Homo sapiens: one gene and its partners. The protein of the gene in region 7 purifies or fractionates together with the protein of the main gene of each other region. This does not show direct contact. Each region holds a gene or a part of one and is shown on either strand. Other genes may lie near its edges. The genes, in order: SLC47A1, MFSD8, SLC12A7, EDNRB, TSPAN15, SLC22A5 and KLRC4.

The links.
Region 1: the proteins of KLRC4 (region 7) and SLC47A1 purify together in Homo sapiens (affinity purification with mass spectrometry; one large-scale study listed by BioGRID and IntAct). This does not show direct contact.
Region 2: the proteins of KLRC4 (region 7) and MFSD8 purify together in Homo sapiens (affinity purification with mass spectrometry; one large-scale study listed by BioGRID and IntAct). This does not show direct contact.
Region 3: the proteins of KLRC4 (region 7) and SLC12A7 purify together in Homo sapiens (affinity purification with mass spectrometry; one large-scale study listed by BioGRID and IntAct). This does not show direct contact.
Region 4: the proteins of KLRC4 (region 7) and EDNRB purify together in Homo sapiens (affinity purification with mass spectrometry; one large-scale study listed by BioGRID and IntAct). This does not show direct contact.
Region 5: the proteins of KLRC4 (region 7) and TSPAN15 purify together in Homo sapiens (affinity purification with mass spectrometry; one large-scale study listed by BioGRID and IntAct). This does not show direct contact.
Region 6: the proteins of KLRC4 (region 7) and SLC22A5 purify together in Homo sapiens (affinity purification with mass spectrometry; one large-scale study listed by BioGRID and IntAct). This does not show direct contact.

What each region holds. Positions count from the first base shown.
Region 1 is NC_000017.11:19,564,527-19,568,835, forward strand, and holds part of SLC47A1 (multidrug and toxin extrusion protein 1), read left to right. Parts: exon of another isoform or gene 1-103; intron 104-2,263; coding exon 2,264-2,333; intron 2,334-2,569; coding exon 2,570-2,702; intron 2,703-4,309.
Region 2 is NC_000004.12:127,958,217-127,962,525, reverse strand, and holds part of MFSD8 (major facilitator superfamily domain-containing protein 8), read left to right. Parts: intron 1-4,309. UniProt on the Homo sapiens protein: Outward-rectifying chloride channel involved in endolysosomal chloride homeostasis, membrane fusion and function. Conducts chloride currents up to hundreds of picoamperes.
Region 3 is NC_000005.10:1,084,019-1,088,327, forward strand, and holds part of SLC12A7 (solute carrier family 12 member 7), read right to left. Parts: coding exon 4,288-4,309; intron 3,016-4,287; coding exon 2,885-3,015; intron 1,456-2,884; coding exon 1,214-1,455; intron 1-1,213. UniProt on the Homo sapiens protein: Mediates electroneutral potassium-chloride cotransport when activated by cell swelling. May mediate K(+) uptake into Deiters' cells in the cochlea and contribute to K(+) recycling in the inner ear.
Region 4 is NC_000013.11:77,911,821-77,916,129, forward strand, and holds part of EDNRB (endothelin receptor type B isoform 1 precursor), read right to left. Parts: intron 1-4,309. UniProt on the Homo sapiens protein: Non-specific receptor for endothelin 1, 2, and 3. Mediates its action by association with G proteins that activate a phosphatidylinositol-calcium second messenger system.
Region 5 is NC_000010.11:69,454,465-69,457,964, forward strand, and holds part of TSPAN15 (tetraspanin-15), read left to right. Parts: intron 1-3,500. UniProt on the Homo sapiens protein: Part of TspanC8 subgroup, composed of 6 members that interact with the transmembrane metalloprotease ADAM10.
Region 6 is NC_000005.10:132,382,464-132,386,772, forward strand, and holds part of SLC22A5 (organic cation/carnitine transporter 2), read left to right. Parts: exon of another isoform or gene 1-1,683; coding exon 1,684-1,838; coding exon of another isoform or gene 1,839-1,857; intron 1,858-2,864; coding exon 2,865-3,036; intron 3,037-4,309. UniProt on the Homo sapiens protein: Sodium-ion dependent, high affinity carnitine transporter. Involved in the active cellular uptake of carnitine. Transports one sodium ion with one molecule of carnitine.
Region 7 is NC_000012.12:10,406,553-10,411,505, forward strand, and holds KLRC4 (NKG2-F type II integral membrane protein), read right to left. Parts: upstream 3,206-4,953; 5' UTR 3,024-3,205; coding exon 2,837-3,023; intron 2,459-2,836; coding exon 2,360-2,458; intron 1,831-2,359; coding exon 1,777-1,830; intron 1,238-1,776; coding exon 1,101-1,237; 3' UTR 832-1,100; downstream 1-831. UniProt on the Homo sapiens protein: May play a role as a receptor for the recognition of MHC class I HLA-E molecules by NK cells.

The DNA of each region.
Region 1 (4,309 bases), on a different chromosome or scaffold from region 7:
AGGAGGCAGGGCTGGTACTGGGGCAAACTGGAAGGGCATTGCAGTAAGACTTTGCTTACTATCTTGTTCATATTGTTCCATTTTTTGACCATGTGCATGTTACCTATTCAAAAAATAAAATTTGAATAAAATAATTATATTTCTGTCCTTTTTGGTGAGGAGGAAGTGATCATCTTGTTCAGTGCTGGATTTCTTTTCTTTTCTTTTTTTTGAGATGGAGTTTCGCTCTTGTTGCCCAGGCTGGAGTGCAATGGCACGATCTCGGCTCATCGCAATCTCCGCCTCCTGGTTTCAAGTGATTCTCCTGCCTCAGCCTCCCGAGTAGCTGGGATTACAGGCATGCACCACCACACCTGCTAATTTTGTATTTTTAGAAGAGATGGGAGTTCTCCATGTTGGTCAGGCTGGTCTCGAACTCACCACCTCAGGTGATCTGCCTGCCTTGGCCTCCCAAAGTGCAGGGATTACAGGCATGAGCCACCACTCCTGGGCCAGTGCTGGATTTCTTATTTAGTAATTAAACAAGTATTTATTGGGAGACAGTCTTCTAGGTTCTAGTTTAGAGTGACAAAACTCACTCCAAGGGTGTTGTGAATTTCCTGCTTCCCCAGGTCAGGGCAGCATTTTTCTCATCTCCCTTCACATGCAGAGGTTAGAATCCAAGTCTCTAGCTTTAGGGGTTCCATTTCTAGGAACCAAGGATAATTCTGCAGAATATATCTATGGCCTTTACCAACCTTCGTTCCATAGAGGGAACTTAATTTTTACTCTGTAGTGCTTCACTGAGGCTTACTAGGAGACACAGTCAGACTTGGCCTGTGGCATCATCTTAAAAGAAGGATGATCATAGCATCCAAACTTGCCGGGATGATAGGTGCGTGCCACTGTGCCCAGCCAAACTTCTTTTCAGCTGATGGGGAACGGGGGAGGGATGTCACCAAATCCCTTGATTTGTCTACACTGACCAGATGGACTATGCGGTAACCCCTCTTTATCCTTGGTTTTGCTTTCCAAGGTTTAGTCACCTGCAGTCAATTTTGGTCTGAAAATCTTTTTTTTTTTTTTTTTTTTTGAGATGGACTCTCGCTCTGTCGCCCAGGCTGGAGTGCAGTGGCATGATCTCAGCTCACTGCGAGCTCTGCCTCCCAGGTTCACGCCATTCTCCTGTCTCAGCCTCCCCAGCAGCTGGGACTACAGGCGCCCGCCACCACGCCCGGCTAATTTTTTTGTATTTTTAGTAGAGACGGGGTTTCACCATGTTAGCCAGGATGGTCTCGATCTCCTGACCTTGTGATCCGCCCGCCTCGGCCTCCCAAAGTGCTGGAATTACAGGCGTGAGCCACCGTGCCTGGTGGTCTGAAAATCTTAAGTGGAAAATTCCAGAAATAAACAATTCATAAGTTTTCAATTGCGTGCGGTTATGAGTATTAGGAGGAAATCTCACGTCCCGCCTGGGACATGAAATCATCCCTTTGTCCAACATCTCCACGCTGTGTGTGCTTTCCACCCGCTAGTTATTTCAGATTGACTGTTTTGGTATCACAGTGCTAGTAATCCCAAAGCACAAAAGTAGTGATGCTGGCATGTGGTTATGGCCTACTTTATTACTACTGTTGTTACTCTCTTACTGTGCCCAAATTATGAATTAACATTATCATAATGTATTTGTGTATAAGGAAAACACAATGTATTTAGGGTTCAGTCCTCTCTGCGATTTCAGGCATCCACTGGGGGACTTGAAACATATCTCTTGAAGACAAGGGTGTGGTGCTGCCTATTTTTTCTAAAAGCTGTGAGATACAACATGCAGTTAGTTTCCTCTATGGACCCAGCAACAGGTGAACTGTCCCTGACTAGGCTGCTGGCCTCAATGCATGTGCATGTCTGTAATATGCAGAAAGCTATATACTTTTTTTTTTAAGACAGTCTCGCTCTGTCATTCAGGCTGAAGTGCAGTGATGAGATCTCAGCTCACTGCAACCTCTGCCTCCCGGGTTCAAGCGATTCTCCTGCCTCAGCCTCCTGAGTAGCTGGGATTACAGGTACCCACCACCAGGCCTGGCTAATTTTATATTTTTAGTAGATACGGGGTTTCACCATGTTGGCCAGGCTGGTCTCAAACTCCTGACCTCAGGTGATCCTCCCGCCTCAGCCTCCCAAAGTGCTGAGATTACAGGCATGAGCCACTGCGCCTAGCCAGAAAGCTATATACTTCTTTCTCCACTTTGTCTCCTAATCACCACGTGCTTTATTTTCCTAACAGAGACATCATTAATCTGGTGGCTCAGGTGGTTCCAATTTATGCTGTTTCCCACCTCTTTGAAGCTCTTGCTGTAAGTATTATGTAGTAGTCCCCTAAGCACTGTTATGATCTTCTGATGGTGGTAAATTTCAGCTGAGAGGAGGGGCCAGCATAGGTAGGAAGATTGAATATTGTTACCACATTTCGTTTAGAAGGATACTGTCACCTTACCATGGATTTTAGCACAGAATATGAAGTGCTCGGGAGATGGGAGTGTTTCAAGAGCGCCGGATGTGTTCACAGTGATGGAATGCTCTCTGCCTGCAGTGCACGAGTGGTGGTGTTCTGAGGGGGAGTGGAAATCAGAAGGTTGGAGCCATTGTGAATACCATTGGGTACTATGTGGTTGGCCTCCCCATCGGGATCGCGCTGATGTTTGCAACCACACTTGGAGTGATGGGTAAGCTCTAACCTCTGCAGGCAGGGCTTAGCTGCTCACCAGCCCAGGAAATGACCGTCGGAGCACACGGGTCTTTGACTGAGGCTCACCTCTGAAACTCGGGAGCTCGCCCACGTCCATTCTGTGTCTTGTCAGAGAGTGTAGGGGGCGTTCAGGAGGTGACCTCCAGCTCTAGCCAGGGCCCCAAGGCTATGTGGTCCTGCCCCTCACACCCCTGCGGGCGATCTTCCACGCTGACACACTTGAGCACAGATGCCCTTTCTACCAACCTCCTATCCTGAGTCATCCAGCCCTCACTTCTCTAAAGGAGGCAACAGCAGGGACCGCTGAAGAAGCATTTGGAAGCATCCCCTTAGTGTGTTTCGTGCTGTTCTTTAGAGACAGCATGTGAGCCCCTGAGGGTGACTCTGCAGGGCCAGGGCTATCGTAGGCGGTCCTGCGTGCGTGGGGTGCTGCAGGGTCTGCACTCACGGTGGCACTCTGCATCCTAGAGCAGTGCCCCATGTGCTCACCAAGCAGCATGGCTGGATCCTTGGAGGGCAATGGGTGGCCAGTGCCCTTCTCATCACCCTCATCGCACTCCGCAGCCTCCACCTCCCTCCTTGTGCAGCCTTAGCTCTGTGCCCCCACAGAGCTCCCCACAAGGCCATACACGTGGTCGGTGTGAACAGCACAGAAGGAAGGGGGCGGACTTGAGCACCTTCCCACATTTGGAAGAAAAAACTTAATCCACAGCATCTGAAATTACCAGAGCTAATCTTTTTAAAAAGTACGGAAATAAATGACTGCCCAGCTTTGATTTCTAAAATAATAATTTGGAACATATTGGCAGTTAATAAATGATGATATGAAAACCTGGACATTTATCTTTGGGGTGAGTAGTGACTGACTTAAAGCGTGGCTTGTTTTGATTCATCTGTACTTGGCAGGCTCAGAGGTGGTGAGAAGTCAACTGATACCTACAGGGAACTTCCAGTTCAGTATGTTCCTTTATGTGGCACATTTTTCTCAAGTTCAATAATATTTTAATTAAAAATACAGGAGTTGTTCAAAGAATAGTATTGCCAATGCAAAGTTCATTGGGCTTGCATGATAGTGCAGAAAATTATTTAGCTGAGTTTCTGGTGCGATTCATAGTTTGGATTTGCCAATTGCCTAGCTAATGCAAATATTATAGAAATCTAATTTATTTTTATTTTTAAAGTAATGTATTTTATGTAACACAATATGTCTAAAATTATTGCAACGTGCAATCAGTATAAAATATTAAGGAAATAATTTAAATTCTCTATATTATATCTTTTAAACTTTAAATTGACAAATTATAGTTGTATACATTTATGGGGTACAGTGTGGTGTTTTGATATATGTATAAAATGTGGAATGATTAAATTAAGCTAATTAACATACTTATCACCACTTATTTTTTATGGTGAGACATTTGAAATTTACTTAGTTAATTCAAAATGTGCAGTACATTGACTACAGTCACCCTGGTGTGCAATTGATCTCAAAACTTATTCTTCCTGTCTATCAGAAATTTGTACCTTAACAACTCCCCATTCCCATGCCCTCCCCTCCTTGCCACCAGTCCCTGCTAACCATCA
Region 2 (4,309 bases), on a different chromosome or scaffold from region 7:
AGACATTTGGGACTGTTGCTTCTATACCAATTTATTCTACACTGCTATACTTTTTTTTGAGACGGGGTCTTGCTCTGTGGGCTAGTCTGGAGTGCAGTGGTGCGATTTTGGCTCACTGCCACCTCTGCCTCCCAGGTTCAAGCGATTCTCCTGCCTCAGCTTCTGGAGTAGCTGGGATTAACAGACGTGGGCCACCAGACACGGCTAATTTTTGTATTTTTGGTAAAGACAGGGTTTCACCAGGTGGCCAGGCTGATCTGGAACTCCTGACCTCAAGTGATCCACCCACCTCAGCCTCCCAAAGTGCTGGTGTAGAAGCAAACAGTCCCAAATGTCTCAATAGGCTCTGAGGCCCGTTGCTATACTTTTTAAGTACTTACGTCTGCTTTTTAGTTTTTCTGACAGACTGTTTTCCTCGCAGACTGTTCTGCATCATGTTTTTGAAATCTGGCAGCAACAGTTGTTTTATTGTTGTTGCTGTCACCATACTCTTTCCACCAGCTTTAATTTGGGGCTTCTTGTTTGTTATAGCTTTGATAACCCTGGATCTATGCTTAATGTAACTGTGTGTCATTACAACCTGGTAGTTCTGACTGAGAGCTAAATGTCTTTCCTACTAGTTAAGTGCATAAGCTTGAGTGCGTGGACTTCATGACATTTGGTTTTCTCAGAACTCAGAAATTCTTTTTTTTTTTTTTTTTTTTTGAGACGGAGTCTCGCTCTGTCACCCAGGCTGGAGTGCAGTGGCGCAATCTCGGCTCACTGCAAGCTCCGCCTCCCGGGTTCACGCCATTCTTCTGCCTCAGCCTCCCGAGTAGAGTAGCTGGGACTACAGGCGCCCGTCACCACGCCGGGCTAATTTTTTTTGTATTTTTAGTAGAGACGGGGTTTCACCGTGTTAGCCAGGATGGTCTCGATCTCCTGACCTCGTGATCCGCCCGCCTCGGCCTCCCAAAGTGCTGGGATTACAGGTGTGAGCCACCGTGCCCGGCCTCAGAATTCTTTTTGCTTCGTCCTGGTTTTTAGCTATTTTCCAGATAATTGCAGGATCCCTGAGTTATGTTTAAATGTGGTCTTCTGGTACATTCTGTCACCTTGTACAAAAGAGAATTTTTTTTCATACTCTTAGCTTTGATTTCATCAAAGTGATTGATGCTCATTAGGATCTGTCCAGATTTAGGTGTTCCTGCCAATAATCAATACCTCTGATTGAGGTTCTAGATTTAGCATTTTAAAAACAAAAAGGGAGTATTTTGAAAATAATAAGTATATGTCTTTAAAAACAAGTATATTCCCTAGTAAAGTGAACCTATGTACAACTAGTTGGCAGGACCTGTTCACTTTGAATATATTGCACAAACATGTCTAGGTCACCACCAACTTTTCCTCACTAACAAGGTTGATTATTATTTGCTGGTCTGGTGGAGCTGGCCTCTTGAATCCTCAGTGCTCCCCACTGACCCCCTCTATGGAGCTTTATTTAAGACAACAGGGGTTGGAAAACATTTCCTGTAAAGTCCCAGATTGTAAATATTTTAGGCTTGTTTAGGGCAAGGGGAAAAATCAAGGATATTATATAGGTGTTTAGATAACCAGAAAACAAATTCCACAAAATTTTTTAGTAATGACATTTAAAATATAATAATAAGTATAATATAGGTTTGTTAATGAAAGGGATAGAATTTGGTGGGGGAGGGGATGACATTTTCCTTAATTGCACTTCAGAGTTGGTGTTTTCTGTCATCAAACTGATAAATATTCATCTGTAAAAACCGTTTGTAGCTCACGTTACTGATCCAAGTTACAAATGATTTCAAAATTTTTTTGCAACCTTAGCCTAGTCTCTGTAAAATTTGTATTATTAGGGCATCTGTCCTTATAGGGCATATCTTTATAGAATATTTTCAGTTTATTTCTGTAACTGTTATACCACTACACTGTTCTGTCACTGAGCACACACTTCTTTCTTTTCTCTCTCTTATTTATTTATTTATTTTTTTGAGACAGACTGTCTGTTGCCCAGGCTGGAGTGCAGTGGCACAATCTCTGCTCACTGCAACCTCTGCCTCCCAGGTTCAAGTGATTCTCCTGCCTCAGCCTCCTAAGTAGCTGGGGCTACAGGCATCCACCACCACGCCTGGCTAATTTTTGTATTTTTAGTAGAGACAGGGTTTCACCATGTTGGCCAGGCTGATCTTGAACTCCTGACCTCAAGCAGTCTGCCCGGCTTTGGCCTCCCAAAGTGCTGGGATTACAGGCATGAGCCACTGCGCCTGGCCGTTGTTAAATTTTATCTAACTCATTTTGCTGATCAGTTCACTCCACTATATTGTGTATTCCTTTTAGTTTTTAAGTCACAAGTTTGACAAGCATGCTATCATTTGGAGTATTTCAGTTTGTAATAGAAATGTTGAACAGGATAAAACTGTAGTACTACAGTTTTACTGGAAGGAAAATCTCAAATGGGGAACTAATGCCAGAATGCAGCAGTGATTATAGAAAGGAATTTTAAAAGTTAAGCAAATCATCTTAGAAATGCAGCATTCCTTTTTGTACCCGGTCATACAAGAAAGAAGCCTCTGGAAATTCAATCAGATATGTGACATATTTGTCTGAATCATCAAAGCTAAGAAAATGTAATAAATATGGTCACTTGATTGAAGGACAGTTGCATTCTCCTATATTTCTACTGTCTCCAACAAGGTAGAAAGATAATTTTTTTCATTGAAGTTATACTTTTTTAATTAAAAAAGGAAAAAGTAAATCTTTTTATTTTGAAAAATGTTAAATCTATAGAAAAGATGAAAAAATCACGAACACCTGTATATCCTGTCACTAACTGTTAGCCTTTTCCACACTGCCGAAATCTTTCGGCAGGTACATACACACCCACACGCACCTCTTTTGCCAAACTACCCAAAAGTAGGTTGCAGACATTGTGATACTTTGTCCCAAGTACTTAATTGCAGCTTGCACCTCCCAAGAACAAAGAAATTCTTTTACGCAACTCCATCACTGTTACAACTAGAAATACAATATTAATTCAAGAATATCATGCAATACATAGTTAATACTCAAGTTTTTCCAATTGTTCCAAAAATATACCTTATATTCTTTAAAAAAACAAAAATAAAAAAAACCAGGAGCCATATGCAGGAGATAATCAATGTTTATGCATTTGTTGTTAGGTCTTTTTAGACTCCCCTAACCTAAAACTATCCTTTGACCTATCTCTTTCTTGTCACCATTAAAATCTTTGAAGAGTCTAGGTCAGGTTTTCTGCAGAACATCTAATATTCTGGATTTATGGACTGTTTATTTCAAAATAGATCCTGGTCAAACATTTCTGGCAAGAATATCACATGGGTTATGTTGAGAACACCCCACTACATTACATCAAAAGGTACAGGATGCCAGGACATCCCACTACTGGGAATGCCAAACATGACCACTTGTTAAGAGGGTGACTGCTATATCTTTCAATTATAAAGGTTCATGTTCCATTTTGTAATTAGTAAGCAGACACTGGGGTGACATTTGAGGGCCTTTGACTATCCTCTCCTTAACAATCTTCCAGTCAGTTGTTTTAGCATCCATTGATGATCCTTCCATTATAGCATAGAAAGTGGCCATTAAATTATTATTTTCTAATTTTATCCTTTCAATATTTAATAATTGTCATTTGTCATTAAAAGAAGAAAGATTTTGTCTGAGCTCTAAATCAGTCACTCAAACAATTTTATTATTTTTTTAGAATCAAATAATTTACTTCTTGATTCCCTAACTTAGATATATCTGGTTTTTTATTCAAATTCTAGTATATTGATTTCAAAGTATGGGCATCTAGGGTTCTGGTATTTTTCTCAGGTAAGCTACATTATTTTTATTTTTTTCTTATCTCCTTTGACTCAGAAGAGGTTTGTTTATATGGAATGACATATATAGTGTTAAACACTTTAAATATATTAGGAACTAATATGTTTGGCATATAATACATCTAAAAACATTGTTTCTCTTCTTCCTTTCCTCTTTACCACTCCCAACCATATCACGTTTGAAAAAAAAAAGTTTCTTTTTTGAAGACTAATTTGACAGTTCTAAGGCTTATTTTTAAGAAATTAATCTTGGAACATAAGAAGGCATTTTGTCTGTTCTGCATGTCTTGATTATTTGAAAAGATAATGCTCACGTTAAGGTGAACTTGTTAACTCTTTCTATTGTGTGTGTGAAAATGTAATGAGTATATAGACTCATGTGTCACCTAATGGAGGTAAGATATCTACTTAGTATACATGCCTTTGGTCCAGAT
Region 3 (4,309 bases), on a different chromosome or scaffold from region 7:
CAGCTCCCCCAACGGGCACCCATGGTGTCGCCCGCGAGTGGCTCCTGGCACCCTGCACCTCCCAAGACAGGAAGGCCACAGATCACGCCAGGGACCGGGCCCAGGCCAGGCTGCAGCAGGAATGCAAGGGCCAGGGATCACACTGGGGACCGGGGACTGGGGACCAGGGACCGGGGACCAGGCCAGGCTGCAGCAGGAACGCTGTACTGTACAGCCGTCCCCTCATCCATGGTTCGGCCACCCGTGGTCCAAACGTGCTAAATGAAGCGTTCTAGACGTAAACAATTCACACGTTTTCCACCGCGCGGTGCCGAGTAGTGAGGTGGAACCCAGCAACCTCCCCCCGCGCCAGCACAGCCACGCTGCAGCCGCTCCCTCCCCGAGGCCCTCGGCGGCGTCCTGGCCGGGTCAGCTGTCACAATCTCAGTGTCTGAGTTCAAGCCACCCTCGTGCCACGTGCCAACGGCCAAGAGCACAGGAGTGCCGCCCCCGACGTATAAGCCAGGCCTGTACGTGGAAAACAGTCTACACAGGGCCGTAGCGTCAAGCATCGGCAGGGGGTCTCAGGACGGGTCCCCGAGGGGGAGGGCAGCTGTGCTTCCCTAAAACGGGCTTGTGGGGTTGCAGCTGTTCTGCCTCCCTCTGTTTTGAGGCCTCTATGAGGCTGTTCCTTCAGGGGCTCCCTCCACGCAGAGACGGCAAAACCGCGGGAGCCTCAAGGGGCTTGGCTGCTGGCCCTTTCTGGACCTGCTCCCTGCGGGCTCTGGTGGCCACTCCCATGTTCCAGGACCCTGGGCCGCCTCCCAGCTGCTCCTCCAAAAGGACAAGAAAAGAGCCCCTCCAAGCACCTCTGGGAGGGAGAAGACACCCAGGCCCCAGCAGCAGCCAGGGCCACACCCATGACGCTCACTGCACCTGACCGTGCTCAGGGCCACCGGCCACCCCTGAAACCTGCCAGACCCCTCACCAGCCCTCCTGCCACTGAGGAGGGTCTTCATGCTCAGACCCGGCCACGAGGGTACCTCGGCCCACCTCACCGTTGGGTTTCCTGTAATCCCCAGAACGAGCCCACGGGGGTTCCCGCCACGGTCACACCCAGCCCACCCCTTGCGGGGAGCTCGGCGTCAAGGATGATGGACGAGAGGCGGGCAGAGCCCATGGGACCTGGCCCCAGCCCCACACCCACCCACGGCTCAGAGGCCCCGAGACTCACGGGATGTCCGGGGGGTCGAAGGCAGACTTGATGACGCCGGCATAGATGGCCAGGATGGACAGCACGACGCAGGCCAGGAAGACCAGCGCCAGCTTGTTGACATACTTGACGCCCACGAAGACCACCAGGGCCATGAGCACGAGCGTGCACGTGCCGTACACACGCATGTTGTGCAGCATGGCGGCCGCCTCGCCACCTGCAGCCTCCGCCTGGAAGATGGCCGCACCCGGGGAGATGTACGTCTGTGGGAACAAGGCCGGTCGGGAGGCCGTCCCCGGACACAACTCCCCAGTGCCCGTCCCTCCCGCAAGCCCCCAGCGCCACACAGGGGCCTCCTCCCAACAGGTGCCGGGGCCATCGGGACGCATCCGTGCTGGACGGAGCCCGCGGGGGTCAGCGCACAGGCAAGGGACGGAGCCCGCGGGGGTCAGCGCACAGGCGAGGGACGGAGCCCGCGGGGGTCAGCGCACAGGCGAGGGACGGAGCCCGCGGGGGTCAGCGCACAGGCCATGGACAGCCAGGGGCCTGAACGTTTCCCAGGAACCACCCGGGAGCCTTAGAGTAAAGCAACTTCAGGACCCGGGGCATCCGCATGTCCGCACTCAAAAGAAACACCTTCTGCTAAGAGGAATGTGACTGCTGCCCAGAGAGCTCGGCCCACCCCGGCTGGACGTCCTGGACACACACAGGGTCTGACCACGCCGGCGGGGGGCAACCTCTGTTCTGCCCAGATTCAAGGGAAGGGACGGAGACGTGAGACAGTGCTGCTCAGCTCCCTCAAGACCAGGACAGGACTGGGGTGCAGCAGGCATGGAGGGCATGGCACCCACCCCCACCAAAGGGGATCCTGGGAGTGCGGCAGCCACGGCACCCGGGGCAGGTGGAAAGATGGAGGGACATGGCCAGGGGACTCGGGTTGGGACGGGTGTGGGTGCGACCCCACTGAAAGGTTTCAGAACCTTCTTGGCCATGTGGCTCTCTTCAGGAACCCAGGAGGCCAGGAACCAGGTCTGGCAGCAGAGGGAGGGGCAGAAAGACTGGGGACAGGGGCTCAGGTGAGCGTCTCTGAAGCCCTGCAGGGACAGCGGGTTTCAGAACCTCAGCAGGAAGGACAGCACCCGTCGGCCAGAGAAGGGCGGTTCCCGTCCCCACGAGGACCAAGGAACTCAGGCCACAGCTCTCAGCTGTGCTCAGGTGATGTGGGACATGCTTTGAGCATGCCTGTTTTGAGAAGGTGATGACATCACCTGGTTGTACATTGCTGGGCTCTGGGACCCTCGGCCAAGTGCCCAGATCAGGCAGAGAAGAGGCTGGGATCCTGGCAAAAGGTTCTTCTAAGCCGAGTTCCAGCCCTGCTCCTAAAACAGCTCCGACTGCAGGACTGCACCTACGCGGGGCTCAGATCTACAGTCCAGATGTCTACCCAGCTCATGCCAGGCACGCCTCACGGAGGGCAGCAATGGTGCTCAAGGGGGACACAGGTCGCTGCTGAGTGGACGCTGCCCAGTGGCTTCCGCCATGGCCAGAGCCCAGGAGAGCCCAGGGGCAGCCAGGGCAGTGGGGTCAGGATGGCTCAGTGTGCTGTGTGTGCCACAGAGTGGGTCAGGCAGGGCCCCTTGGCATCCTGCCACAGACTGTGGGGTGGGAACCCTTCCAAAGCAGCACACTTACCAGAAAAATCTCGATGGTCCCCAAAATATACATGGCCCCTGCAAACGTCGTGCCCAGGTAGAAGCAGAGGCCGACAGCGCCTCCAAACTCGGGTCCCAGCGAGCGCGATATCATGTAGTAGGACCCGCCAGCTGCGGAGACAAAGGCGGCAGCCGCGGGTCAGGGGCGCACTTGGACTCGGACCCGAGGTGCGGTCTGCGCTGCCATTCACGGGCAAAGGAGGGCCTGTCTCTGCGAAGGCAGCGTGTAGACCCTCGTCCACCCGCAAAGCAGCACATGGAGACGCTTCCACGGTGAACTCTCCCCTCCCGAGGCTCGGCACACGTTCCACACCAAGAGCACGCGCTCTCATGGACATGAGGACCAGGTGAGATCAGGGATAAGGCTCTCTGGGGAGCAGGAGGCCCCAGCAGGTCCCAGAAAAAGTCCCGCGTACATCAGTGGCAGCCCCAGCCCCCACTTCCACTAAGTTTTGCTTATGAAAAAGGCAAAAGAGAAACTAGGATGTTCAGGAGTCGTCTCGTGTACTGTGAACCACGCACGCTATCACTGGCGGGAAAGCCGGGCGCAACCCCAGGGCTGCCTGGAGAACACAGCTCTCCCTGCTCTGAGCAGTGCGTGTGGCATGTGGAAGGGGTCCTAATGGACGCGGCCATCGTGAAGCAGAGACTGGTCCCTTGGCTGCGGAGGGAGACCCCTGGTGAAGGCCCTCGTGCTCTCCTGAGGCCGGGGAAGTCCGCTGAGCACCAAGCGATGCCCCCGTGGGGATGGGGACCAGCTGCGTGAGGACCTGGTGCTGAGCAAGCCCAGCCGTTAACACGCGCAGCACACATGCACTCAGAAGCAGACGTGGCAGCGTCTCCGTTCACTAGTTATTTCGTATCGTAATTCGTTTATTACTAATTAACAGTATCATCTCAGTTTACTAGTTATTACGTATTGTAATTAACTTATTACTAATTAATATCATCTCGGTTCACTAGTTATTTAGTTATTATGTATTGTAATTAACTTATTACTAATTAACAAGGTCAGGGCAGTGTTTTGTCTTCACCTTCCCTCGTGAGATACAGGTTCCAAGAACTCAGCCTATGGCACACGCTGGGCTACAGGAGCCACTGGAATCGCCCGTGCCTCCCCCTCCCCAGCCCGCTGCCTGGTGGGCACTGCCTACCCTGGCAAGAGACGGTCACCACGCAGCAAAATGGGGAAGAAAACCAAACAGCCGTGACCTCACGGCTCAAACGCCAGAGGAGCCAGTGGAGAACACGCAGAAGGCCCGGCTGAGACCCCCAGGCAGCCCCCGGCCCGGCCTCGCCAAGCGGCCTCCTCGCGGTTGCCGTGCGGCAAAACACAGACTCCTCTAACAGGACTCAGGGCCGCGGCTGGCGGGCACCCCTTACCTGGGACCACACCGTTGGTAGC
Region 4 (4,309 bases), on a different chromosome or scaffold from region 7:
AAGGTATACCCACACACCACATTCAGCTATCTCCCAAACATAACCAACTTCTTTTTAACTGTGCAAAGTCCTGAAAGAGAATGTTTCACATCATAAATTACATCTTGAATCTTATTTCAGCTCAGGCTTTATCTGTCAACACCCTTTAAAGAACTTAATCATTTATTAGCATTTGGCATGTTTCTCTAAAAATAATCAACTATAGCATATTAGCTACACAGAGATACCCTTATATGGTTTTCTTTGTGAATTGAAGAACATGGCTCCCTGGCCTGGAGACAACAGGGTCTTGGCTACGTTATCCTTTTGTACAACTATGGAAATATCTTCAATCTTGAAAGACTCATTTTAAATGAGCAAACTGAGAAATGTAAACCTTTTGATAGATAAGCCTTACCATATTGAAAGAAAACCTTACCTTGACATTTGTAGAGGCTTGGATTTACGGAGTGACCAAGTGGCAGATCAAAGGCACACACAAGAAATACCATCAAATTGAACCTAGGGAACCTTGCATTGCCCAAGGCCAAGTGCTTACTGACCATTTTGTCACAGAAATCTATGACCAACATGTGAAACAGTGAATTGGGAATATGAAGTCTGAGTTTCTGGTTGATTTGAATTCTGCTATCAACCTGTTATCTGACTATGACAATACTTTAATACAGAAGGAATCAAGCTTTCTTTTTCTTTTTCATTTGGACATCAGTAAAAATATGAGTGGAAAAAGCCCACTACTCTTATGTCTTCTGTATAACATCATTTGTCTGAAGCATTTGTGTAGTATTGACAGTTGCAGCCACTATGATAGATGGGTGTCAGGGTATTTGCTGTATTGTTAACTGATTCCAGGTCATTCAAGCTAAAAGCCTGGCTTTTAATTAACACGTTTTAAAAGTTAATACTTTAAATGCACTTAATTGGTGCTCCTTAAAAATTATTTTGCTTTACATAAATCATACAGGTTCCACTTTTGGTTCAGAATGCTTATGCTGGTAAAATATCTTTAAATATTACTAAAATATTTCAGTTACTTGACTGGAAATGAGAACATTGTTATTAAACTGGGATAAATTAGACTCCTCTCCCAATGATACCCTTACTTCTTGTGTTGCTATATATGCATATGCTTCAGTTTACTGATTGGAATATGTGAATATACTTCAGTTTACTGACTGGAAAATTATAACTTCAAAAGTTGGTGGTGTTCCATCAACTTTTACTTTTAACTACAAAACTAGTTAATTATACATAAACTTGTTAAGTACCAGAAGTAGTCTAAGAGGATAGTGCAAAAGGTAAATTTGTTCAGAAAGATAATCCTGATTGTGTCACAAGCAGAAAATGTCTGATTACCTGCCAAGGTCACTTCACTCGAAACTCATTTGTGGGTTCAGTGAAGCAATTCCGCATTTTGACATACCAGCATTTTAATGTTATATGTTCCCACCCTTAACTAGTTAAACGTTAAAGATCAGCAGTTTTGCCTTTCAGAACTATGAATGCAGCCTCTTTGCCTCTAATAGTAGCCTACAGTTCTTAACTGTAAAACCATCTAGAAGCACTCCAGTGGGTCACCAGCCTAATTTCTAGCTCTCCATCACCACTGGACACCTGATTACCTTTGGATCCTTACCAAACTAGTTAATGTGGATATTGGTATTTGTCTTATCAGTTTGCAAGTAGATTTGTTTTTAAATGCAATTTCTTTACACATAAAGGAAGCTATATTTGAGAGCTAACTTCTTTAACTCAGTTATCCATGTAAATATAACATAAAGAGAGTTAATAAAATTCAGAAGTAATTTAAGAACTCACTATTTGCTCAAGAATTTTTAACTTCTCCCAACCTACAACCAAGTTTTGTTAAATATCATTGCCAAAGCAAACCAAGCCAAATCAACTAACCAACCAAACAACAACATAAACACATTGATAGCATCCCCAAGTATACCCGGCTGTCTTGCTTTTTATCCAGCTTTGATATCTATGCTTCTACAACTTAGTAGTGGAACACCAGGCTCTCATGTGAACAAATATCTAGATTACCCCATTTATTTTAGGATATATAGGAAGGGCAAAATAAGTAGCTTGTGAATAAGGAGAAATTCATCCTAACGTCAGGTAGTCAAGCACTGGCTTTTGGTTCTGATGTATATGTAGACTATGTAAATATTAAGCATGGTGGCCCATATACATATTACAGATAAACATTAATATGCATTTACATCCATATTGAGATATTATATAAAATAGTGATTAATACCAAGAGTACAAGAATAACTTTCTAGCACAATATGGCAATATCTTTCAAAATTACAATGCACACACATTTTGATTTAATAATTCCAGTTATAAAAATTTACCCTTCAGATGTAGTCACACATGTGTGCAAAGCCATATGTACAAACATGTCGTTTGTAGTCATGTTTGTCACGACAAAAGCTGGAAAACAAAGAATACTCAAAACGCACATACACACACATACACACATTTTAATAACATTTATCATTTCTTGCTATATGCCATGCCCTGTGCCAAATGATAGTCATCTTTTTACTTATATATTCTTATAAAACTTAACATTTTAATGTATGTACATGTACACGTGCATATATATTTAAATAAATATCTCCTTTGGATGCCTGAAGTTTTCATTGTTCTTCTGGTTGGTGTTGTGTAATGTAGGCATAGCCCTAGTGTGTGCCTATGAGAAGCGTAAGCAACGCTTATTATTTTCTGCATGTTTACATGAGTTTAAAGTTCTTCAGCAGCCTCAACTTGCTAAGTGTCCTCAGACACTTCCCTAGCCTTCAACACAGGATTTCACCCACAACACAGGAGACCTGTGAGAGTGGTATGATTCTTCCTAAAAGTTTCCAGGGACCCAGCTCCTTGAGGAAGTCCAGGCAGATCAGACATGTTTCCCAATGCTTTTCAGCTTCCCACTGCAGCAACTCCAGATAAAGTCCCACCAATTCCACAGCCTGAAGACTGTAGCTTCCAATAAGAGCTATGACATTTTGTGATTTGTCAACTTTACTGAACTCTATATTCATTAAACTCTAGATTAATGGAATAGATTCACATTGACATTTCTGGGCCTCTGGGCCCTTAGTGTGCCAACAAGAGAGTAGGAGAATTTCACAAACCCCCAGAAATTGTGTATATTGAATTCTCAAAGAGAATTATAAAACCCCACCAAAAAAATTAGAAATCACTGGTTTAGATTTAAGCCTCTCATATTAGGATATATTAAATATAGCCTTCATAACTCATTTAAATTACTTTTTTCTGAATGATCATACCTGACTACTCTGAAATTCTAAATGCATTAAAAAAACTACGTTGCCACAATTATTTAGGAGAATAAATGGCTTTTAACTGGTCCTGGATTTGATATTTTGGTAAATTAAGCCATTAGAATAACTTCCACTGATATTACACACTACAGACCAGCTGAAGGGGGTTTCAAGAGACCGAAATCCTGACTCAAATTAATTTCTGAAAATGTTTACCAAGTATTCTACTGTGGGATAGCATATTATTTGCCATAATTCCACCAAATGCTCCCAAATGAGATCCTAAAACAATACTCAAGGTTGGAGATGACCATGCAGTGCCTGAGCATGCTTTGTGCAGTGGGATGGGGTGGACCACAGGGTCTTGGGCTGGATGATCTGCTTTCAAGCCCCAGTTTCATTACTTTGTAGTGGTATGACATTAGGCAAGTTACTTCTTCACCTCTCTGACAAGTAGTTTGCCTAGATCTAAAGCAGGAATGATAACGATACCTCCTCTACAGGGTTGTTATAGTGACTTAATGAAATAAACCAAGTGCCTAGTGCATCATTAACTGGTAGCCATTATTATGATATTGTGTCTCAAGCTAAACCTAAGGCCACAAGGTAGGATTCAATAATGATGACCTTAGTGATGGGACGTAATGTGATGAATGTGTTTGTGACCCATGTAGATTAATGGATGGACAGATTTATAATGACTCATTGGCTTATTTCAGAAGTAAAAACACAGTCATGTTAAGACTGGATGGCTTCAGGGAAAAGGATGTAACTTCCTAGGGAAATCATATGGGAGTTTGAAATGAAAGGGAAACTGTATGACCTCTTGGGGAGTCAGAAATTCTCTAGTTTATTACAAATACTCATTTAACCAGACAGAGGAAATAAGATGGTTCTGGAAGAGCTGATTTATATCTGTCCTGGAGGCAGCACACCAGAACTAAAAAAATGTTCTCAATCCCACCTTCTACACAGCACTTCAGCTACTGTCTGATTTAGAAAGGTTT
Region 5 (3,500 bases), on a different chromosome or scaffold from region 7:
CTGACATCGTGCCACGGCACTGTAGTTGGGTGACAGTGTAAGACTCGGTTTAAAAAAAAAAATTACTATTGACCAGGCATTGTGGCTCATGCCTGTAATCCTAGCACTTTGGAAGGCCAAGATGGGCAGATTGCTTGAACCTGGGAGTTCGAGACCAGCCTGGGCAACATGATGAAACTCTGTCTCTACTAAAAATACAAAAATTAGCTGGGCGTGGTGGCATGCACCTGTAGTCACAGCTACTTGGGAGGCTGAGGTAGGAGGATCACCTGAGCTCAGGAGACGGAGGTTGAAGTGAGTTGAGATTGTGCCACTGCACTCCAGCCTGCATGAGACTCTGTTGCAGAAAATAAAAAATAAAAAATAAATTACTACTGATAGAAATGCATGCATGGGCTTGTTACAAAATTTAGAAGTAGAAAAGGGTAAGGCCGGGTGAGGTGTAATCCCAGCACTTTGGGAGGCTGAGGCGGGCGGATCGTGAGGTTAAGAGATCAAGACCGTCCTGGCCAACATGGCGGAACCCCGTCTTTACTAAAAATACAAAAATTAGCTGGGTATGGTGGCGTGTGCCTGTAGTTTCAGCTACAGCGAGGGCTGAGGTGGAGAAACGCTAGAACCCGGGAAGCGGAGGTTGCAGTGAGCCTAGATAGCGCCACTGCATTCCAGCCTGGTGACAGTCTCAAAAAAAAAAAAAAAAAAAAGGAAAGGGTAGTGGTTAGTGACAAGCCTCCCCTCCTACCCCTCTCTCCTGGCCTGCCCAGTCCAGAGGAGGCCTTTGTTATCAGTTTCCTGTCACTCTTTTCTGAGCTATCGTAGTCAAAGGATGTCCTAGGACAAACATATGTATATTTAAAATAAGGTAGCACACTATACACAGAACTACGTATGTAGCCCCTCTTTCACTTAAATTTAAATCCACGTGAATTATGGAGATCTGCTAGGAGCTGCCTCATTCTGTGTGTTGGCTACATAGATTCCACTCTAGGCTATGCCACATTTATTTAATAGTCCCCAGCTGGGGAACTCTTAGGTTGTTCCCAGTCTTTCTTTCCCTCTCTTTCTTTCTCTTTCTTTCTTTCTTCTCTCTCTCTCTTTCTTTCTTTCTCTTTTCTTTCTTTCTTTCTCTTTCTTTCTTTCTTTCTCTCTCTCTCTCTCTCTCCCCCCCCCGTCTCTTTCTTTCTTCCTTTCTTTCTTTCACTGAGAACAGTGACACAGTGAGTATCTCTGAATGTGTCATTTTGCATGGGTGTATATGTCTGTGGAGTAATTCTAGGAGTGGGGTTGTTGAGTTAAGGGGTATATGAATATATGTTATACATGCAGACACGCACCTGCCATCAGTATATACAGCTTGATGAGTTTTCACAAAGTGAACACACCTGTACACTGAGCCCCCAGGTCAACCAGCAGAATGGACAGCAGAAGGCAGATACCCCTCAAACCCTCTTCTAGGCACTATCTCTTACCTTTGTGGGTGATCACCACTGGATTATCTAGCAGTATAGAATAGCTTTGCCTGTTTTTGTATGTGCATTTAACATTTTGATGTTATTAAATTGTCCTATATAGAGGTGACACCAATTGTAATATTATTTACTTAATATGTTTATTTAAATTTACTTACTTTTTTTTTTTTTTGAGACAGAGCCTCGCTCTTTCACCTAGACTGGAGTACAATGGTGTGATCTTGGCTCACTGCAGCCTCTGCCTTCCAGGCTCAAGCGATTCTCCTGCCTCAGCCTCCCGAGTAGCTAGGACTACAGGCGCCTACTACCACGATGGGCTAATTTTTGTATTTTTGGTAGAGACGGGGTTCTACCATGTTGACCAGACTGTCTCGACCTCCTGACCTTAAATGATCCACCAGCCTGGGCCTCCCAAAGTGCTGGGATTACAGGCGTGAGTCACTGTGTCCAGCCTAAACTTCCTTTTTAAACTTAAATTTCTTTTCCTTTTTTTCCCTTTTTTAAAGTATATATTTTTTATTTTCCAGGCACATAGGTTCAAGTTGCCCTGAATATGCACGCCTTTAAATTTATTTTTAAAAGGAGGCTTTATATCAGTATTATGAATGGGAAACCAAGACGCCCATCATAAATAGCAGGTAAAGGTTTAAAATAAGTACAGTACAGGGAAAACAAAACAATGATACTAAATCCTAGCTGGATGTCATGGGTGCTGAAGGCTGTGACCCTGACGCCTACCCTCTCTGTTCAAAAGGTAGGTTGGCAAGTGCTTGAGGGGCTGAAAGACAAACTAGCACCCAAACTGAGACCCGCTCCTTGATGCAATCGGAGGGGTCGAAAGGGCATTGAACGAGGAAAGCTCAGTCTGTAAGTCCCTATGATAGGTATACCCCTAAACCACTTATGGTTATCTGTCCCACACTCAGGGCCCTCTTGTTTTCGGCAGGGAACTTTGGGGCTGCAAAAGGGTGTGTTTGAGGCTCACTTGTCAGAGCTGGCATGTACCCCAGGTCCCTGCATCCTCAGGTAGGTGCTCCTTGGCCCTTCCAGTAAGTCATGGGGATGTCTGCGGGAGAAATGAGCTCACGCTGAGGCACTTAGAGCCTCCTTTTCCCACCACACAGGGTGAATCATTCTGACACATGCGCCCTCAGCCCATTGGGGACACACCTCTAATTTTAGCACTGCCCACGGGGTATCTTAGAGATCCGTTTACAGGACTGCTTTTCCTTGCTGGACTGTGGGCTCCCAGAGGTCAGGATTGTAGTTCATCCATATCCTCCTCTGAATGCTGCCCCTGGGGCCTGTGCACACAGTAGGTGCTCAGGGGAGGCATGTTGCATGATGGTGATTGAGTCCCACTTGTACCTACAAGGCGAGGATCCAGCTTGGGGCAGAGGCCTGGCTGGGGGTGTAACCCGCAGTGGTCAGGTCTGCTGAGGCCTTGACTTTGCAAAGTGGGCAGGGCTGATCATGGTGCTACGGACTCTCCACAGAGCACCAAGCCTGTTTCCTTGATAACAGGGTAGGACTTTCAAGTGGGTAAAGGTGTCATGGCTGGGGAGTGTTGACTAATCAGGAAGAAAAGGACTTGGTGGGAGTTGGGGGCAAGTAGGGAGGAGCTGAGGGTGGGTAGGTGGTGGAGGCAGCAAATGCCAGAGGCAATAGGAACTCTTTCTGGGCTTTCTCCAAGGATGAACCTGCTTATTAGAGCTTGGCCTGTGATTTCTTACATTTCTTATAGTTTAATGGTTAAGAGTGTGGGCTGTGTACCAGGTTGCCTGGGTTCAAATCCCAGCTCTGACACTTAAAGGTTAAGTGGCCTAGACATAACTTCCATGCACCTAACCTACCTGAAGAGTTGCTAAGCAGATTAGATGGATTAATACATCTGAAGAGCTTAGAGTGGTGCCTGGCACATGATGAACACTCCATCAACTAGTCATGGATTAGTCGTTCTTTTCCTGCCTTCCTCTCTAGCCTTGCTGCTCAAGAGCCATAGACTAAGAATGAGAAGGGCTGTTAAAGACA
Region 6 (4,309 bases), on a different chromosome or scaffold from region 7:
CAGAAATTGGGGGAAAAAAAGTGTTATTATAGGATTAATGTTGGTCTTCCGCACTATACTGTGAATATCATTGAGAGCTTGGTCCCTACACCTTAAATCCCCCATCGTCAACTATTTTTTCCCATCTCAGTGTCCCATGATCAAGGAGACCCTCCCTGAATGTCCAGTTCCCCAACCCTTACCCCCAGTCCAGGGTAGCTTCCTTCCTTGTGCCTCTCATTAACCTGCATGCCGATCCTTCAGTGCACTTGACTCAGTGTGTAATTGTATATTCAGTAGCGTGTTGTTAGATTAAAATGTGGTTAATATGTGTTTCACCAGTTATACTATGACACTCCTTAAGGGCAGAAACAGCATCTTTTTTAATTTATTGATATCCAAGTGCCCTCTATAATAGATGCTCAATAAACATTGAATGAAAGTGGGTGTCAGCCAGTACTGGCCAGACTCAAACTGAACCCACTGCTTCCCACTAGCTTGACTTTTTCCTCCTGTTTGTGGCACTCTCTTTAAAACAAACCAAAATAAACCCAATTTTAAAAACTTTTTAAAATGAGCACGGATACAGAAAACCACACAGAACAAATGTGTAGCTTAATGAATTTTTTTCAGAGAAATAACCTTATGACCACCACCAAGTCGAGCAGTAGAACTTTGCTGTCCACTAAGAAGCCCTGTCCATGTGCCCCATCCCAATTACAGCATCCTCTCTCTCTCCCCATTAAGTAACCGCTAGCCTGACTCCTGTAATAATCACTTCCTTGTGAGTTTTTTTAGTTTTATTATCGAAATATGCATCCTTGACACAAATTTAGTGTTGCCCACTTAATATATTTGATGTCTTTTAGTCTACTTAATCTATGGATTCTCCTTCTATCGCCTTCTATGCCTTACTGATTATCTATGAAGAACCTGAGCTATTCCACCTATAGAATTTCCCAGTCTGGATTTGTTGATTGCACACTGATGATGCAGTTCAGCACATTCCTCTATGCTCTGCATTTCCTCAAAATTGGCAGTTGGATCCAGAGACTTGAGATTCAGGTTCTGATTCAGGTTCAGTCCTTTTGGCCAGACCATAGGAAGCATGCAATTCCTGACTGTCTCTTTATGATGTTAACAGTAATTAGTATATAATGCATAGATCTATTAATCCATTGGGGGCTATAAATGGTATTATTCTAATTTTATTACCTTTTCATTTAAAAGTTAGAATACTTTTGTACATGATACTACCTCTTATCTATTATTGGTTGCTGTTCACATAGTTTACAAAGGAAAATCAGGACAAATGTTTCTTTCTCTTTATTTGCCAGTTTTCATTTATAATGAATTGTTTCTCTGTTATTCTCCAAATTTGGCAGATTCTTTTTTAAAAAAAATATCATTATGAATGTATGGATTAAATAATTGATGTATTTCAGTCTCTTGCAATCATTATCATAATTGTAGCATTGCTTTTTAGGCAACCCTGGTACCCAGGCTGTACATTTGTCATGGGGAGTGGGGAGGGGGAGAAATAGCATGGGCACTGTGAGACCGAGACTGTCCCTGGCAGCCAGTATTCTGGCAACACTGTTCACACCCACTTACTGGATGGATCTTGAGAAAGCCCCACTTGGTGGAGCCCATTCCTGCTGCCCTTTTCCAGCTGGTTATCTGTCACTCTCCTTTTCTTCCCAGGTTTGGCCGGAAGAATGTGCTGTTCGTGACCATGGGCATGCAGACAGGCTTCAGCTTCCTGCAGATCTTCTCGAAGAATTTTGAGATGTTTGTCGTGCTGTTTGTCCTTGTAGGCATGGGCCAGATCTCCAACTATGTGGCAGCATTTGTCCTGGGTATGGCCATCAGGTTGGAGTTGAGTACTTGATCCTGTATTTCACCATCATCCCATCACCTACCTTTCTGGAGACAACTGTGATGTCCCTCAAGGGGGACAGGGTTTCTAACAAAACTAGCCAGAGCTTCCTGGTGAACCTTACTTACAGGCAGGGAAACTGAGCCAGACATGAGACCAGCCTGGGGTCCCCAGCAGCACAATGGCCTGACTTCTGATTTCCAGTTCTTTTCTGGCCTCTGGGCTGTGGCTCCTTGGTCTTAGTACTTGATGGTCAATTTACTAGGACTCACCAGAGATCCTCCATTTACAAAAAGGGCCTGCCACTGCACAGGGCTGAGCCAGCCCCAGAAAGAGGGCGGCATGGTTGGAGGAGGAGGGGCTGTGACTGGCAAGCTTGCTAAGGTAGAGAACCCCTTGTCTGCAGAGCACTGTGGCTGGTGATATCTACGGACAAGAATAAATTGATAGGAAGGGGCTTTCGTCACCTTCAGGGTTTTAATTCAGAGTGCACACTGCAGGGCTTTGTCTCAAATGTGCCAGCCTGTTGTCACTGAGAAGCTGCCAGGCCGGCCTGTGTTTGGAGGAACCTGACTCTAGCTGATAAGGCCTTTGAGTTCCTTGGGTTGTATTGTTGAAAGGGTTGTTTTTTCTTTTTATATTTAATATTCTTTCCTTGAGGCTTAAGTCAGCATGTGCTGACTTAGTAATGACTTCACTTTTAATAAATTCTTCCTCATGTGAGGATTAAAGGGGGCCTACCATGGCATCTTTAGCACATGGCTTCAGAACATGGCGAAATTTTCAAGAGAGAACTGTTGCTTGGGGGCCTGAGAGGCCACAGGGATGTACCCCCAGGAGACAGTCAGACAGGAGGGGTTCAGAACGCCATCCGCTCCCTAGCGCCATGAACTTAGAGAGAGTTCTCGCTGTTTTCTTGTCTGTGTATTCACAAAGATACCATAAAAAATTAATAAGGAAGGAACCCAAATTAAACTGCTAACTCGACCTCCCTTGTTTTGAACAGGGACAGAAATTCTTGGCAAGTCAGTTCGTATAATATTCTCTACGTTAGGAGTGTGCATATTTTATGCATTTGGCTACATGGTGCTGCCACTGTTTGCTTACTTCATCCGAGACTGGCGGATGCTGCTGGTGGCGCTGACGATGCCGGGGGTGCTATGCGTGGCACTCTGGTGGTGAGTGTGACCTTGTGCCCCATGTGCCCACTGGCAGGATGATTTCTGTCTGGCCTTCACTAGAGGGCAGCAACAACCCATGAATCCCTATTTTGTCTCCCAGAGACAGGAAGCATAGATTATAAATTATTTCAGAATGTTTTCTCCACACTCAAAAGAGCCAAAACAAAACAGAATCCCATGACAGCAACAGACTTGCTCTCAGCCCTGTGCTGGGTTGCCCCAAGTGTGGGGAAAAATAGCAGTAGCTGTGAGAAGATGGGGTCCAGCATGCCCTGTAGGAAGTTCCCAAGCCTCAGGGCAGGACAGTGTAGGCCCTAGTTCTGGCTGTGTGCTGCTGAAGCCTCATGCCACAGGCACTGGCACCAAAAGCAAGAGTCCTCAGGGTAGCCACATGGAGGAAGCCAGGCTCCTTCTGCACCACCAAGGTAGAGGAGTTGAACAGGCAGAGAAGAGGCCATTCCAGACCAAGAGGGGAACACTGCAGAGGTGCTAAGGTGGGAATCACCCCTTGCAGGTGGAGAAGGTGAGATCACCAGCCCAAGTGGAGCAGAGAGCATTTCAGGGCATAGTGGGAGAGTAAGCCGCACATCATGGGGCCCAGTCATGACCGAGGGTGGGGGGCGGCTACCTGGTCCCAGCAAGGTGGAAAATAATATCCATAGAGCACTCAAGTGCCTTGATAAACATGCTAATTTTTTTCCTTTTTTTCTTTTCTTTTTCTTTTCTTTTTTTTTCTTTTTTTTTTCTCAGACAAAGTCTCTGTTGCCCAGGCTGTAGTGCAGTGGCGTGATTTCCACTTACTGCAACCTCCGCCTCCCCAGTTCAAGCGATTCTCATGTCTCAGCCTCCCGAGTAGCTGGGACTACAGGTGCCTGCCACCACACTTGGCTAATTTTTTTTGTATTTCTTTGGAGAGACGGGTTTCACTGCGTTGGCCAGGCTGGTCTGGAACTCCTAGCCTCAAATGATCCACCGGCCTTGGCCTCCTAAAGTGCTGGGATTATAGGAGTGAACCACTGCACCTGGCCAAACATGCTATTTTAGGTAGAGTATCTGACTAATCTGTTGGATAAATCAGGGGTAGGGTGAGGAGAGAAGAGAAGCTAAAAGGCCAGTGCAGAAGCTTCTGTTGGTGCCGGGGACAGGGAGGAGAGTGTAGCAGGGCCTGGGCTGACATAGACATGCACAGAAGCCAGGCTTCCGGAGCCCATCTTGCACCCATCTCCTCAGCCCAGCAGATGGCAACACTGCTCTTCAGAAATGGAGGTGG
Region 7 (4,953 bases):
CAGGTACATGGACTCCTTTTTCTCTGCTACTCCCTAATAAATACAACTCTAAACTCTGCAAGTAATGAAAGACACACAGGAAAACTCTGAAAGGTGGAAAGAGGAAGGCAAAATAGTTTGGGACCCCAGAATCAGGGATCAACAGAGTGTCCGGGCATCTTCAGTCCCCCACTCAGCAGAAGAAAGTGATCTAGTCCTCTGTTTCTCAGAACCAAATCTGGTAACAGGAGGTGGGTCAGCTAAGCCCATTCCCACTCTGTATTGAAAGGGAGTCCTGCCAGCAACATTAGGCAAGCCTGGTACCACTGGCAAGGATGACCTACCAGGAGGCCTGCTACCAGTTAGGAGCTAGAGGAAGTGCTTCTCCTCCCAAACCAAAAGACATCAGGGTAGGTGCGGTGAGAGGGATCAGCAAAGGAACCGCATGACTACACGTGCCCATCCAGGTTCCTCTTTGTTCCTGAGGGCACGAGACTCACTTCCCCATCCAGAGACACAGGACTGAACAGATTGTAAATGTTCTATGCACATCATGCAGCAATGAAAAGCAACAAACAACAGCTAACTGCATTATTGCACAAATATCATATAGGAGTAAAAGAAGACACACATGAAAATACACATTGTATGATTCCCTTGACATAAATTCTGGAACAGGCAAAGCTTATTTATCACATTAAACATCAATACAAAGGTTTGGAGAGGAGGCAGGAAAAGTGAGGAAGGCATACACAGGAGCAGGACTGCTGGGGCTGGAAACTTCTATTTCATGATCTGCCCTGTATCATGAATCCATTCACTTTGTGATCAATATGCATGACCATGACATGCTTAGTTTTCTTTATATTTATTTTGTGATAAAAACATTTATAGAAGCATGGGTTTCCATGAAAAGCAAAACTGGAAATAACCAAATGTGCATTAACAGTATATGAATATAAAAATATTATGAAGTCAGTTGAATACTACACAGACTTAAAAATATATGAAGTAAATATATGTATAAACATATGGATGATTTCTACAAATATGATATTGACAGAAATAAGCTTTTAGTAAAGTGTTGAAACATTTACGTCTTACCATTTCTTCCTCATTATCTATAGAAAGCAGATCAGAGTTCTTCGAAGCACAGGCCAGCAAACTCTTTCTTCCCAAGTTCTTCTTTCCTTACCAATGTAATAACAACTGTTGGAATATGTAATCCACTCCTCAGGACAATGGCCACAATGACGTGCTAAATAAAAATATGAATTACTATGCAAAACAATATGTTTACAAATGAAAATTATTTTATATATTTGCAAAGCTATAAACATACAGGTACACAATATCTGCATCCTCATAAGTTGTTAAATATATATTTTAAAATAACGAGTCACTCATACGCACATGCACAATAAAAGGTCCACCTCTCATCCCTTAATTGTGTTCCCATACAAAACAAGCCCGCCAACAAAAATCCACCCTACACATCTTAAACATCACTGAACAAAACTGCTTTTTAAGTATAGTAAAATTATTTATCTCTTATCATCTTATAGTAGTAGGAAATTTCAGTTAATTAAATGCAACAAGAGGGTATAATGATTTTAACTGAGCATTTCTACTTATTATTGGAGAAAAGGACATGCCCTCATATAATCTTTATTTTATAAACATTTATGGCTCATTGTTATAGTTTATTTTCCCAAAACATTTTATTATCATTTTGCATCCCTTTAGAGACAAAATATAAACTGTACTAACATCAGAACATTGACAATCATAATGTACCTTTCTGCATTCTTCTATTCAGGGAAAAATTGTTCTGCTCCAGTACTCCAATACCTAGAAAAATTAAAGTGATTCTTACAAAATTAATATCTAGACAAATTATAATAAATTCAGTTGCTTACTTTGAAATACAAAATTTAAAATTATTTTAAATTGGAACAATCTGAAATAAAAATGACTTTTCTATAAAAATAATGAGATCTTTAAAACAAATATTTTTAAAGCCATTAGCATAAAACTTCACCATCTCTTATAGTATTTGATCTAACCACTTTCAAAAATTAATTTGTTTTTCTAAATATTTTTTCTCTTAAAACATGTCTTTGAGTCATGAAATCAGAATACATCTCTCTGTGTGTGTATCATATATACATATATATTTAGTACACACAAAAAAATAAATGTTTTCTACAATTATTCTGTTATTTATAAATTTGAAAAGTTCAGAAGCAGCATATTATCTTGGGGTTCAGAGATATACATTAAACAGAGAATTCTAATCCTCATTATTATGAAATGTTTCAAGGCGCTTCCAATCATTATAGTGAAAAGTTCCCTTATAATCTTTCAAGAATATGCTTACAAGGAATAAGAACTATTGTTTTTAACACAGTGGCCATCAGGACAATGCAAATGATTCCTAGGACCTCAGCAGTGAGCTTCTCTGGAGGTGGCAGTAAACCTGCAGGGAGAGAAAGAGGCACTGAGAGAGGGGAGATAGAGAGTTGATGAGAAGGTTTACGTACAAGAGAACTCACGTGCACAGGAAAACATAATGATAAACTCTGTCCTCTAAATCTACATCTACTCTAGTAATCTTTCTCTCAGAATATACCATTTCATTATCAGTAAATATAATGCTCCATGAGTTGTTAATCACAAATTACAATTGAACAATGCCTGAATAAAATCAGGCTTCAGATTTCATATTAGAATATTAGATCCTGACTTTGACCTCTGATTCTCACAAGTGCAAAATATTCCCTAATCTTTCCCCACCTTTCTGCATTCAACTGCACATCCTAGAACAATAATATTGAAGATCTATTTAATGTTTTACCTTTGCAGTGATATGTCTTGTCATTCCCTTGATGATCCGAAGAAGCATTTTGAAGGTTTAATTCTACTTGGAATATTTCCTGTTTGGTTCCTGAAATGGAGATTTTATTGCCCTTAAGTTTCCTTTGCTGCCTCTTTGGGTCCTGGGCCAGACTCACTTCTGAGTAGGTTCCTCTTTGTTTATTCATCTCTGCAGCTGTGTGATGTCAGGGACTGTGCTCTATGATAACTGCACTTAAGAAGCTATAAGTGGTGTATATTTTGACAGGATCCCTGGTATAGGCAAACTGCATGTGTTGGAGGCTGAGTAGTAATGTTCATTTTGCTGTTGACCAATATAAAAGTCTGGTACTAATTTCCTAAAGTTTTAAACTGAAATCTCTTTAAACAATAGGTCACTTTTTAAAAGGCCTTCTATATTTGACATAATATTATTAATGGGAACAATAAAAAACAATACATTTGTGAAAACTAAGAAGTAACTGAATATAAATATCTTTATTAATTTAAAATCAGATTCTACAGAAATATTTTATCACCAATAGAATACCTGTGTAAAAAACTAAAATTGAAATTTGAAAATAAAATGCACTAATTGTATGACAATTTTAAAATTCATTAATGTAAGGATTGAGCGCTAAAGATGGAGGAATAATTTGTTGGCATATAGAACAACTTTTAATACTAAAATACATTAAGTTAGTGACTTACATTCGTTTACTAAAAGGGCATGAGGTCTTGGCAAATGTTTTTTATTCTGAATGATTGAGGAAAACAGAAAAATTGTTAAAATTTTAAAGAAATATTTTATACCTTGTAAAACATTACATTAACTTATGCATAAACTAAATACTACTGAAAAAGATTTAACTCTTTATTTTACAGAATTGATTGGTAATTGATTTAATGACTAAAATAGGAAAACTGAAAATGATAAATATAAGTTTGGACCATCTATGAAAGAACACTTTAAGTTCAAACTTTCAGAAAGACCCTGTGGTTGTTTTAAAAGGCAGCGAGGGTCACTTTGGTTGTGTAAGTAATTGTAATAAATCAGAAAATATAATTTAATAATCTAGTCAATGAGCTCTGTAGCCAGTGAGACCTAAAATTAATTACAGCTTTGAAACTCATAATGCATGACCTTTACAAAGTTACTTGGTGTCTACAACACCAGTTTACTAATCTAGATTGGGGAAAATAATTTATGAAGTATAATGTATATAAAACCCTTAACATACAACCTGGCACACATTAGTCCTCAATACATATTAGATATTTTAATTATTTTTAACACAATTGCCATTTTATTATTTCTAATTCATACTGAGTGTGTAAAATAACTAATGAGGTAGGAGTCTCATGTCAGTGTAGTACATCTTTTTTGCAATGTTTGTTTGGCTCAATTTTTTTTAGGTCGTCCTATTATTTATAATTAAGTTTAGATTTGCATTTTATGGAAACTACTTCATTATTACATTCTTAAAAAAATAAAATCTGCTTCAATTAAATATAAGTATGTGTATGAGAAATTATGTTTGACATTCACAATTTGATGTATCCATTAAAAATGCATTTTTAAAGTCTGGGCTAAATATAAAGTATTATTACATCTATAATGATTATAAAATTTCAAATTAATTCTTCATTGTCGTGATATTTATCGGTTTCACTCTAAATTATATTGATTAACAAACCTATTATGATGTATGCATGTGCTTGACTAATTCTCCACAGGCAATAATGTAAATACTTTAAGAAATCCTCAAACATATATTATATTTTGGGTTGCTTTTCACCCTGAATTATTCATGTACAGACAGTTCTACTTTGATTTTATTCTGTATTAACTTTACCTTGTTGCATCACATTTAATATTTACAATTTTCTACTAAAGGAGATGAGCTAGTAGAGAAACAGGAGACTAGCAACACATACCTTCTGTCATCAGAAAGTCACACGCCCCTTAGTGGAGAGGTCAGGTTACCTCTTAACGACACAAAAGACATCTGTGATCCGGTGAAACCCCGTCTCTACTAAAAATACAAAAACTTAGCCGGGTGTGGTGGCGGGCGCCTGTAGCTGCTTGGGAGGCTGAGGCAGGAGAACGGTTGAACC